Linked DNA regions of Homo sapiens: region 2 is linked to region 1. A link means that fine-mapping ties the variant in region 1 to the expression of a gene that starts in the linked region. Tissue or cell type: thyroid. Region 1 holds a variant in brackets; the other region holds the start of a gene. All regions are shown on one strand. Distances are from middle to middle. Region 1 overlaps PPIC-AS1 (PPIC antisense RNA 1). Region 2 holds the start of PRDM6-AS1 (PRDM6 antisense RNA 1).

Evidence for each region.
Region 2: it holds the start of PRDM6-AS1, and the variant in region 1 is fine-mapped to the expression of PRDM6-AS1 in thyroid (GTEx, PIP 0.99).

The regions. Positions count from the first base shown.
Region 1 is chr5:123,037,498-123,039,997 of GRCh38, reverse strand. The region is part of intron 1 of PPIC-AS1 (PPIC antisense RNA 1); the gene reads right to left. Among named protein-coding and RNA genes, the nearest start is that of PPIC, 2.0 kb to the right of the region's middle. The variant G/A (reference allele first, on the strand shown) is at 1,234.
Region 2 is chr5:123,089,140-123,091,639 of GRCh38, reverse strand. PRDM6-AS1 (PRDM6 antisense RNA 1) reads left to right here and starts at 1,324. Exons shown (of 2, transcript NR_146771.1): 1 at 1,324-1,568. PRDM6 (PR/SET domain 6) reads right to left here and starts at 2,399. Exons shown (of 8, transcript NM_001136239.4): 1 at 2,121-2,399; 2 at 1,034-1,640. The coding sequence starts at 1,625.

The sequences.
Region 1 (2,500 bases):
GGAATTTTCTGAATCTGAAAAAAGATATCCCCCAAAAGGACCTTCAGCAAATATCATGCCTAATGGTGAAACACTGAAGCTTTCCCTCTGACACTGGGACCAAGACAAGGTGTATGAGCCCCCTAGGGCTGCTGTAACAAAGTGCCACAAACTGGGTGACTTCAAACAAGAGAAATGCATTGTCTCACAGTTCTGGAAACTAGCAGCTGAGATCAAGGTGTTGGCAAGGCCATGCTGTCTTTGAAGGCTCTAGGGGCAAATCCTTCCTTGCCTCTTCCTAGCTTCTGGGGGTTGCCAGCAATCTTTGGCATCCCTTGTCTTGTAGATACAGCACTCCAATCTCTGCCTCCATCCTCATATGGTGTTCTCTGTGCGTGTGTCTGTGTCTGTTCCCTTTTTATGAGGACACAAGTCATATTAGAGTAGGGCAAACCCTACTCCAGTATGATTTCATCTTAACTTGATTACGTCTGCAAAGGCAGTCCAAATAAGGTCACATTCACAGATACCAAGGTTTAGGACTTCAATATATCTTTTTGGAGGATAATTCAGTCTACAATACAAGGACTCCCACTGTTGCCACTTCCTTTTGTACTGCAGATCCCAGCCAGTGTAAAAAGGCCAAAAAAGAAATACAAAATGTAAAGATTAGAAAAGAAGAAATAAAACTGTCATTATTCATGGATGACATAATTGTCTATGGAGAAAATCCTAAACAATTCACAGATAAATTATTAGAATATGTTTAACAAGGTTGGTATATACAAAGTTAATATATAAATTAATTTTACTACAATACATGACAATAGCATAAAAAAACACTTAGAAATCAAACTAATAAAATACGTGTAAGACCTCTGGGCAGAAAGCTATAAAATCTTATTGAGAGAAACCAAAGAAGACTTAAATATGCTATGTTCATGAATTAGAAGACTCAATATTGTAAATTTGCCAAGTCTTAAATGGTCTACAGATGCAGTGCAATCCCCATCAAAATCTCAGTGTGTGGAAACTGACAGGCTGATTCTCAAGTTATATGGACATGGAAAAGCTCAAGAACAGCCAAGAATTTGTTGAACAAAGCTAAGAGGGTATGTATTACTGAATATGAAGAGTTATTATAAAGCTATTTTAATGAAGACAATGTAGTATTGGCACAAAGACAGACAAATAGGCCAATGGGACAGATAGGGTGCCCACAAACACACCTATGCATACATGGGCACTTGCTCT[G/A]TGACAGAAGAACAGTATGGAGCGGTGAGTTAAAGGGGAGAATTTTCAATAAACTGTACTGAAATAAATGAATATTCTTATGAAAAAAATGAATTTGCTTCCTACTTTGTATTAGCCACCAAAATAGTTATATGCAAAAATATAGATGAATTTCACAAAAATTTAAGCAAAAAGAAATACATACGGTAATACCCTATTCAAATAAAATTAAAACAAAATTAAACTATAGTACAAGAAAAGTCAGGATTGCAGTTAATTTGGGCAGAAAAAAGTGTTTGTAACTGGCAGAGGGTATAAGAGGAGTTTCTAGGGAGCTGGGAAAGATTTCATTTCTTTGCCTAGAGGGTGAGATGGTGGTAGCATAAAAAGTAGTTGGACACATTCATTCATTCAACAAATAGTTATTGAGAAATCACTATATATCAGGCATTGCACTAGATCTGGGTCATCAAAGGGGAATAAATATAGGCCTGATCCCTGCCCTGGCCCTGCTTACTTCTGATAGCAGACAGACAAAAACAATTAATGAACACAGATAAATATATACAATCACCTCACAGTCACCTCGTAGGGTAAGTGCTCTGAGAGATACCCTTGTCTTGCTACACAAGGGGGACTCTTTCCTTATTGGGGGTGGGGATGAAGAGGAAAGCCATTAGGTCTTTCACTGGACTGAATCATAAAAATAGCTCAGAATTGCATTTCTCCTTTTTCTCACCCCAAAGAAGTAGTGGTTACTCCTTTTATCTCTAATGGTTCCAATGTCATTTTAGATCTACACTTAGGTACACCTAGGAATCCCATCTGACATTTAGAAATTCCATCTCTTAATCCGAGGAAAATCTTGGCTTGAAAGTAATGGCACCAGCCCCTTAAAATGGCACCTATGTGCGAATACCACTAATTTTTAGTTAATTTTAGGGCTGTTACTCTAAAACAAAAAAGTTCTTTTGAAATTCTAATTCAAAAAGCAATGAGTTTTAAAATAACCCTTTCCATGTTATAAAATACTTATATGCTCATTGTAGAACATCTGGGAAATCAGAAAACTGTAAAAAAAATTTTTTTAAACCCTCAAAAATCCATAAGTCTATCAATAGCTATCAATTCTATCTATAGCTACTGTAAACGTTGTGGTACATCTCTTTCAATATTTAAGTGCCTTGATATATTTATTTTCACGGTTGAGATCAGAATTTGTGGTTTTGCAACCCGAATTTTCCATTTAAAAATATAATAAGAACTTACTTCCCCAGTCATTAATCTT
Region 2 (2,500 bases), 52 kb before region 1:
AACACAGTATAGGTGTAAACACAGTATAACTTCTGAAATTATCAAAAAGAAGCAGGTATAAAGCAGTACATATTGCTTGATCTTCATTTAGAGTTTTGCTTCAAAACCGCCAAATGGAACTGTACTTGTGATAAGCGTTTCAAATTGTGAATATAGAAACCGAAGCTACAGGAATTCTGATGTTTAGTTAGGCATTTGCTATTAACTTGGAGGAAGAGGGGAGTAAGCGTCTTTTACTAAATTACAGTCACCCTAATTTCTAAAAATAAATACATAAACCAACATGGGTTATGAATGTTTGCGGGGTCAAAGGTGCGCGGATAAAGCGGGATCAGCGGAATCGGAGGAGAACAGAAATTTTCTTCTCAGTAAGTAGCAGTCATTTTTTTTTCTTTTCCTTCTTTTTAAATGAATAGTAGATCTAAGAATACTGCCTGCCTTCAAGGAGAAACGGACTCAGTTTCATCTAAAATTCCTACTCCAGTGAGGCCTGGCCAGCGAACAGCTCCCGCCGGTTCCCCCACAACCCCGCGGCCCGAAAATGACCCCTCCAGAGGTGGGGTGGAGAGTAGCAAAAACAAGCCCTGGTCTGCGTGCTCCCCAGAGACGCTGAGGGTCCCTCCCTCGTCCCGGCTAAGGCCAGGCAGGGCCTGACCCAGACACCCCCTGTCACACGCTGCCAGTACCCGCCTGGCCCCGGGCACTGTCCGGCGGGAGGGCAGAGGTCTGTTAGGCCGGGTCCACGGTAGACTCCGGCCCCAAACACTTGGGACTGTGAAGCAGGTGAGGAGAGGGAGGGAGAGGGAACCCCAAAGTGCCACCGGCCGTCCCATCCGTTCTCTTTCCTTCTCCAACGCCAGAAAACTTTTGTCACAGAGATCGGGGAGGCGCGGGCCAGCGGCCAGGACCAGGTGCTCCCCACCCACCCGGCCCCGTGTCACTCCTATCCGACCCGCCTCCCTGACAGGCACCCGCGCCCGCCGGCGCCGGCGCCGGCGCCCCGGGAGAGAGCGCGCGGGCTGCGGCTACGTACGGTTGTTGGGGTCGCTGGTGTGCTGGTTGAGCGGGATGATCTCCATGCGCTGCTGGCCATACAGGTAATAGTCCAGCTCCTCTGCGCTGCAGCGGAAGCGCGGGGCGCCGCGACCCTCCCCGCCGCCGCCGCCACCACCACCGCACTTGACGGGCCCGGGGCCGGAGGTGGCGCCGAGGCACAGTTCCTTGGGGGGCAGCGGCTCGGCGGCGACGGCAGCGGCGGCTAGAGGCGCGAACACCGGCAGCTGCGACACCGGCAGGGCCGAGAGACCAGCCAGCGCGGCGGCAGCGGCCGCAGCAGCGCAGGAGGAGGCGGAGGAGGCGGAGGTGGAAGAGGAAGCCGGCGTGGACGAGGCGGAGGAGAGAGAGGCGGGCCGCGGGCGCAGGCTGTCCGGCGGAGGCTCAGCGCGCTCCGGGGGCGGGGGCGGCGGCGGCGGCTGAAGAGGCTGCGGCGCGCTCAGGAGACCCGCGGCGCCGCTGCCCTTGAGCGGGCCTGCGCCTCCGTGAGGGAAGAGTTGCTGCCAGTGCTGCAGGTAGGCTGGGTCCACTTTGAGGAAGGCCGAACCGCCGGGGTCTCCGGGCTTCAGCATGTCCGGCGCCTCGAACTGGGGGCAGAGGGCAGGGAAGAGGGGGCGCGTGAGCTGGGCGAAAGGGGCCGGGAAGAGGGCCACTGGGACCCTGGAGAAAGTGCCCGAGCCGGTGGTTCAGCCGGCGGCCGCCCGGTTCCGCGGCTCCCTCTTCCCAACTCCGCTTGGGCGCAAAGTTTACTCCGAAGCTGCGGCGCCGCACAGAGGGAGCTGTGTGCACCCTGCTCTGCCTCCCCGATCGCAGCGTCCAGCTCCCATCCAGCAATGCTGGGGCCCGACAGGAGGGCGCTGCCCCGTAGAACTCGGCTGCAGGACGCAGCCCCCGCCCTCAGCCAGCGCCCGGAGCCGACCCGAGCCGGCGTGGCGCAGCGCCCGAGCCGCGTTGGCCTCAGGCGCCAGGAGGCAGAACAGTCTCGCCGCCCGCCCCCAACCTAGGACCACCAACCTTCCTATCTACCAAGCCCTAGACTCTTAAGTCCCAGACCAGCCTCACCTTACCTGAAAACTCGGTGCTGCCGGTGGGTGCGTGCGGGTGTCTCGGTGAGCGTGCGGGTGCGCGAGAGTGTGCGCCCTGCGTGCGCTACATGCCCCTGAGCAGCGCGGGAGGAGAGTCCTAGAGATTGTGCCGCCCGGAAACCTCCCGACCTGCAAGCGAGAAAATTGGGAGGCCCGCGGAGGGCGCGAGAGTGCGGACGGACCTGGGCGCCCGACTCAACCGCCGTGGGCTGCTGCGCTTGGCCGCTGCCGCGTCCTGGCTCCTTGGTTCCACGCTCTGGCAGCTTCCCGGCTGGACACGTGGGTTTTACGACAGCACAAAATAGAGTGAGTGTGTGTGTGTGTGTGTGTGTGTGTGTGTGTGTGTGTGTGTGTGTGTGTGT